2 linked regions of the Homo sapiens genome follow. The protein of the gene in region 1 interacts with the protein of each later gene in a pairwise test. Each region holds a gene or a part of one and is shown on either strand. Other genes may lie near its edges.

Region 1 (3,500 bases):
CTGTCTAGCTGTCTGCTGCCCTATACACAGCTACATCTCCAGTGTCTAGAACAGTGTCTAGCACATTTTGACATCTATTTAGGATCCATACATATTTCTGACTTTAATTTCTTTTAAGAGACAGGGTCTTGCTCTGTCACCCAGTCTGGAGTGCTACTGCATGATCATGGCTCACTGTAGCCTCGAATTCCTGGGCTTAAGCGATCCTCCCACCTCAGCCTCCCCAGTAGCTGGGACTACAGGAATGCACCACCATGTGCAGTTAATTTTTAAAAATTTTTGTAGAGATGAAGTCTACCTATGTTGCCCAGGCTGGTCTTGAACTCCTGGCCTGAAGTGATCCTCTTACCTTGGCCTCCCAAAGTGCTGGGATTACAGATTAATTAGCCTGGCTAAAAGTTTTAATAGTGCAATTTTAAAGAGAAAATTAGAAGCAATTTATTTATCAGATAATAGAATAAACTTATGTTTTAGTCACTAGAAATTATAAATATGACAGTGGAAATATAAGAAAATACATATAAAATAATGTTAAGTTTAAAAAGGAGAACCTGGTGGGGCACAATGGTCCATGTCTGCAATCCCAATGTTTTGGGAGGCTGAGGCAGGTGGATTGCTTGAGGCTGGGAGTCTGAGGTTTCAGTGAGCTATAATCACACCACTGCACTCAAGCCTGAGAGAGTGAGATGCTGTCTCTAAAAAAATAAAATTTAATTAAAAAAAACAAGCTACTACCCCAAAAAAGTAGAGCCCAAACATTTACTTTATATGTCACATAAATATATGAATAACATGATTAAAACTCATGTATACCACTTTGGGAGGCCGAGGCAGGCAGATCACGAGGTCAAGAGATCGAGACCATCCTGGCCAACATGGTGAAACCCTGTCTCTATTAAAAATACAAAAATTAGCTGGGCGTGGTGGCACCCACCTGTAGTCCCAGCTACTCAGGAGACTGAGGCAGGAGAATTGCTTGAACTCGGCAGGCAGACGTTGCAGTGAGCCAAGATTGCGCCACTGCACTCCAACCTGGCGACAGAGCGAGACTCTGTCTGAAAAAAACAAACAAAAAAACCCCTCACGTATACACATAATGTATATGTGTGTATACACCATTTATTTAAGAGACAGGGTCTTAGTCTGTAACCCAGGCTAGTGTGCAGTGGTACAATCACAGCTCACTGTAACCTCAAATTCCTGGGTCAAGCAATCCTCCCATTTCAGCTTCCCAAGCAGCTGGGACTACAAGTATGTACCACCATGCTTGACTAATTTTTTAAAATTTTTGTAGAGACAGGGTCTCACTATGTTGCCCAAGCTGGTCCTAAACTGCTGGACTCAAAAGTGATCCACCCACCTTAGCCTCCCACAGGGCTGGGTATTTATTTGAGTAACATCAAAGTTGGTTCTCACTATGTGGTTTCAGGTATATATACCACCCATGACACATGTCAGAAGCTAGAGATTAGAGGGAGATGAGAGTTTACAAAAGGAAGGAAAAAAAGTTTAAAGAAAACAGGGCAGGACATTGTTTGCCTGAGGGAGAAGCACTAGCGTCTAACCACAGGTCTGTAAAAGGAACAATATGACAGGCAGGGTGGAGTAAAGGGTGGTGTATGTAATCAAGGAGAACCATTCCACAAGTGCCATCCCGGCAAGTCAGCAGATAATGAGAACCTCCAAACTAAAGACTGGCAAGAACTAAACATGGATGGCAAATCCAATGTGAAGGAATGAAAAAATCTGCCGATCTTTTAAGACCCAGGAAGAAAGTAATTCATCAGAGACCTGACAGTGGAATTAGGGAAAAAAGCCTCTCCAAACACACTCTAAAAGTGGCAAGCACTTCTACCCTGAGAGAACAGAGCAGAAAAGACATAAGCAGCAAGCTTTCAATAAACGCCTGCGAAAGAACGTTAAAATCCCATCCCACTGAGGTTGCACTTTACTCTTTGATCTTCTTCAGCTTTATCCTGTAATTCTTTTTTTTTTTTTCTTTTTTTGAGATGGAGTCTTGCTCTGTTGCCCAGGCTGGAGTGCACTGGTGCGATCTGGGCTCACTGCAAGCTCCTCTTACCGGTTCACGCCATTCTCCTGCCTCAGCCTCCCGGGTAGCTGGTACTACAGGTGCCTGCCACCACGCCCGGCTATTTTTTTTTTTTGTATTTTTAGTAGAGGCGGGGTTTCACCGTGTTAGCCAGGATGGTCACGATCTCCTGACCTTGTGATCCGCCCGCCTCGGCCTCCCAAAGTGCTGGGACTACAGGCGTGAGCCACCGGCCTATCCTGTAATTCTTATGCTGTCTCAATAAATGTTCATCGTATTTCCTAAACTAGACTACAGATTCTGCTAGGAAAACAATCTTGTCTTTATTTTCTTCCTCATCCTTTTTGTGAACCTTTGAGTGCTAATCTAGAAAGTAATAAATGGTAATTTTCTAAAAATAGAGTGCTTTCTAGGATCAACAGGTAAATATACTACTATGAAAACAAACACACAAAAAAAGAGAAACTCATAAGTATTTACCTGTGTGTTCACTACTTCTTGAGATAACGTTTGATTGAGTGGTGGATACATTTCAAGTTTTATATTTAAAATTCCCACAGAAACTTTTGATTCTGTGCCTATAAACATAAATATTTTGAACTTCAGAGATTTCAATACTATATATATTTAGTCAACCAAAGTCTAACCAAAATAATTTAGGCACTTGGGTGTTTTATCACTTACATGGAATAAAGATAACATTCAACATTACCTTTAATATTCATATTAAAATGAACCAAATCAATTTTTTTAAACAAAGGTGTTTAATTATAAGGAGATTATTTTCTTAGCTTTCTGACACTCTTTTTCTTCTTTAAGTAGAGATGGGGTCTCCCTATGTTATTCAGGTTGGTCTTAAACTCCAGGGCTCAAGTGATATTCCTGCCTCAGCCTTCCAAAGTGCTTGGTGGGATTACAGGCATGAGCCACTACACCTGGCTTTTCTAACAGGTTTTAAGAAACTTTTCTGACTTAAAGGATTTGAGACTCTTAATTTTTGTCTTAATTAAATGTATAATATCAACCAGACTTACATTAAATTCAAAGTCAAAGCAACTGTTAACACCTCATTCCTTCTCCACACACACACACACACACACACACACACACACTAAAAATTAGAAAGCATTTATATTGTCACTTATAGTAACTCCCATTTGTCACTCCCCATTATCCAATTACAGGCTGAGTAGAAATTTTCAATCCATGCCTGGATTTAAAGAACTAGAAAACAAATATACTTCACATCAAAACGATTTAATGTTTCTTCAGTGAATCAGAATCTGCTTGTTTCCAGGTCACTGCTACGATTATCATGTTAGGCCTATTTTTGAAGACAAATTGGGTATTGTTTTTGAAAATAAATTTCTTACATAAAGGACACTTTTTCTATAATTTTTATTTAAAGAAAAATACATTCTTGGTATGACTTATTAAAATCTAAATTACT
Region 2 (4,144 bases), on another chromosome or scaffold:
TCACCCAGCCATAAGCACACCTGAGAAAATTTTTAAACTCACTCTGACAAAGGAACAAGTAAATGAGAATTCTTAACAAATGGAATATATGATTAGATTTTAATTTTTTTCTAAAACCCACTTCTTTTACACCCTGTGCAAATATTTTTGTGCCTTTTAAACTTTACTAATCAAATGCAATTTACAATTAAAAGAAGCTGAAGTCAAAATAAGTGAACAAATCTTTTCAAGGTGACAAACCCACAGAGGGACAGTGCTGATTAGAAAAGAGATGTGTCTGACCTATGTGTCAAGTCAGGCCGTTCAATCACTTGAAAGATTCTCCCACCCGCTCCTGCTCACTAAAGTTCTCAATGACCAACCTCTCAAGAGACACTACACTATGCCCCAGTGACTGCCCCAAGTGCATTTTACTTTGCAAGTTCTTGCACCATCTCACTGGGGTGACCTTTTTTTTGTCTTTTGGGATACTATTTTTTCTTTCACAAATCTTAGAGAATCCAGGGGGTAAAAATTATTTCTGCATTTTTCTCTCAATGTGTCTCCAAGAAATAGAAGCTGGGTTGGGTGAAGTCAATCTTTTTTTTTTTTTTTTGTATACAGTCTCGCTCTTTCACCCAGGCTAGAGTGCAGTGGCATGACCTTGGCTCACTGCAACCTCCACCTCCCGGGTTCAAGTAATTCTTCTGCCTCAGCCTCCCTAGTAGCTGGGATTACAGGTGTGTGCCACCAGGCCTGGCTAATTTTTGTATTTTTAGTAGAGATGGGGTTTCACCATATTGGCCATGCTGGTCTCAAATTCCTGACCTCGCGATCCGCCCGCCTCGGCCTCACAAAGTGCTGGGATTACAGGTGTGAGCCACCGCGCCCAGCTGGGTGAAGTCAATTTTAATGTCTCAAGGAGTTAGCTTTTCAAAGGAAGAGTACACCAGGAGACTGCACTCAGACCCTGGGTATCTACCTGCTCCCTTGATAGGATACACTTCATACCTCAGGTTGTCCTATGAGAGAAAATGACCCAGGAGCTGATATTCACTAGACACTCTAGCCAACATAGCCACAATGGTGGGCATCCTGGTTTATCCCCATACAGTACTGAAAACCCAGGACCAGGAAAAAACTGAAGAGTGGCTGATGACCCATCACACCATAAAGTCTCCAAACGGAAACCTTGACCCACCAATATTCTGATAAGAACTCTGTGCCTAGGGAAGATAAAAGGAAAAGAGACACAGAGATTTTTTTACAATATGGTGTCAGGGATTATTATTCACTTTCTTCTCATGGGAAATATTTACAAACAGAAGACAATTTTTTAAATAGTGCCATCCAATGTTTTGTGGAAGAATTATTAATTGAAATATAAAATGTACAATAAAGGACAAATAATTGATAATGTGTATCAGAGAGGGGAAGGTGGCATTTGGGAATGTCAATGACACTGGAAATTTAGTATTTTACTGTAAATCAGAGTTAATCTGGAAGAACAGGGAGTAAGAAGTAGACTTGAGACCCTGCTTGAGACATATGTGAAAAATGCAGGGGAAAAGAAGTCCCCTGTGGACTGTGAAAATGATTCAGTGGCAGGCAATTAGACTGAGGTGGCTCTAGTCCCTGGGGTCCTCCTTTTTAAAAAAATCTAACTAAAATTTCATTTTTTAGTAAATTACCACATCGGGGAAAACAAAATTCAGGCTTAACCAACTATAAACTGCCAATTAAATTCTGATCACATAACCAGAAAATTGCCAACACGATCGTACAAATTAAGAGACTATATAACTGTACCTAACCAATTACTAATTTGATTTTTTTATCATGCACCTTATAAAAGTCTTTTATTCAAGCTCCTCCCATGGACCACAAACTACAAACCATAGCTGAGTGCTCTACAATACTTGAACCACTTTTTAAGTTCTTTAATATTTTTGCGGTGACTCCTATACATCTTTTTTTTTTTTTTTTGAGACGGAGTTTCACTCTTATTGCCCAGGCTGGAGTGCAGTGGCGCGATGTAGGCTCACTGCAACCTCCGCCTCCCGGGTTCAAGCGATTCTCCTGCCTCAAACTCCTGAGTAGCTGGGATTGCAGGCGCGCGCCACGACGCCCGGCTAATTTTTGTATTTTTAAAAATTGAGACGGGGTTTCACCATGTTGGCCAGGATGGTCTTGAACTCCTGACCTCAGATGATCCGCCCGCCTCGGCTTCCCAAAGTGCTGAAATTACAGGCGTGAGCCACCACGCCCGTCCCCCCATACATTTTTAACAGAAAAAAAGAGGAACTGGGAACCCCACAGCCCAAAGCTCTTTCATGAACCCGCACCCCGAGTCAGGATTCTCCCCTGACAACCCTCCCGTGGTCCCTGCTCAATCTGGGAGAGACGCGGTGCTGCGAATGCAGAGCTGCCCAGAGAGGGCTCCAGTCCAGGGCACAGTCACTGCGCAGGGAAGAGACAGGACGCCCGGGCCGGCTGTCAGCGCAGCCGCCATCTTATGGCTGGAGGAACTGGGGCCGAGCTGGGCAAAAAGAACTGGAGCGCAGATTGTGGAGCTGACTACAGGGAGGCCTGAGTCCCGCCACAGCCGCTTCCCACCGGTTTCAACCAACCCCTTTCCCCCTCGGGATGGCGGACCTGGCACTCTCACCATTTCTAGGCTTCCAGGGGGTCCCGGCGTCTTAGCTGTGGATCTCCCAATACCTGCAGGCCACAGGGCCACAGAGGCTGGGCGTCCACGAGCAGAAAACACAAAGCAGGGAAAACAAGACCTAGAGCTCAGGCTGCAGCGAGAGACAAAGGCCCCGCCACATCCCGGAAGCCGCCCTATCCGCACCAGCTGCGTTCCTGATTGGACGGTTCCCAGCCCAGCGTCTCTGATTGGATGATATTTAAGGCACCTTCTTTTCAGGCCCTGAGTGACAGAAGATGTGATCAGATGCTGGGCTGAAAGAAGAGCGAGTGACAGCCTAGGCTGCAGCCTTTTCAGACAGGGCTTCCTTCCTGAGCTGAGCCAGGCTCACACCAGAGAGTATTTGCCCTTACCTTGTGTATCAATTTATATGCATTCAAAAATAATATATTATATGGCTATTCACAAATGAACAAAGTATAACAACAATTGTTCTAAAATTTTAGATTTTATGACCTTCCTGTATTCTGGTCCTTTGAACAGGCAATCCTCTGAAATAAAATGTGAGTCACAGGTGAATTTTAAATTTTCTAGTAGCCAAACTTTAAAAAGAAAGAAGAAACAAGTGGAATTGATTGTAGCAATTTATTTAACCCAATATATTCAAAATATTTTCATTTTAATATGTGAGCAATATGTAATTATTAATGAAATATAAATACATTTGAAACAAAATCTTTGAAACTAATTCTGTATTTTACCTTTCTAGCACATCGCAGTTCAGACCAGCCACATTCCAGGCACCCAGGAGCCACACATGGCCAATAGCTGCCACATTGAAGTACAGCTGTGATGTCAGTGGGGGTGGAGGGCCTGAACACCCCTTTTCTGCCACAGGTGAGGGGACAGCCTCTATTTATCAACGTCTCTTTTCAGTTCCGAGGGTGAAACAAATAGTGGCTATAGAAAAAGCTGATGGCAGCAGGAATAAATCACAGGTAAACCACTGCTTACCACCTGTTGCCCATCTTTCTTTCAGAGATCAGACAGTGAGCAAAGGATGATGGGCCACAGGAGAAAAAAAACTATGTCTTCAGATCTGTTCACAGTCTTGACCTTTAATGTTTACATAGGAAGAAAATAGATTAAAGGCAAACTTATTTTGCTATTTGACCTCGACTCTAATGTTCAGGCTGTGGTTACCTGTTTTCTTCTGTGGTGTGGGAAACTGAGTGAATATAAGCACAATCACATGCATACATGTCCACATGTATTTCGGCATTTCTTTTTTTTGAGATGGAGTTTCACTCTTGTTGCCCAGGCTAAAGCGCAATGGTGTGGTCTTGGCTCACTGCAACCTCTGCCTCCTGGGTTCAAGCAATTCTCCTACCTCAGCCTCCCGAGTAGCTGGGATTACAGGCATGCACTACCACGCCCGGCTAATTTTTTGTACTTTTAGTAGAGACGGGATTTCTCCATGTTGGTCAGGCTGGTCTTGAACTCCTGACCTTAGGT

The links. Proteins that work in one complex are often made in the same cells at the same time.
Region 2: the proteins of CEP76 (region 1) and ZNF85 interact in binary tests that used the Homo sapiens proteins (3 or more experiments, as listed by UniProt).

What each region holds. Positions count from the first base shown.
Region 1 is NC_000018.10:12,692,724-12,696,223, forward strand, and holds part of CEP76 (centrosomal protein of 76 kDa), read right to left. Parts: intron 2,629-3,500; coding exon 2,531-2,628; intron 1-2,530. UniProt on the Homo sapiens protein: Centrosomal protein involved in regulation of centriole duplication. Required to limit centriole duplication to once per cell cycle by preventing centriole reduplication.
Region 2 is NC_000019.10:20,921,907-20,926,050, reverse strand, and holds the start of ZNF85 (zinc finger protein 85), read right to left. Parts: upstream 2,801-4,144; 5' UTR 2,651-2,800; coding exon 2,648-2,650; exon of another isoform or gene 2,635-2,647; intron 1-2,634. UniProt on the Homo sapiens protein: May be a transcriptional repressor.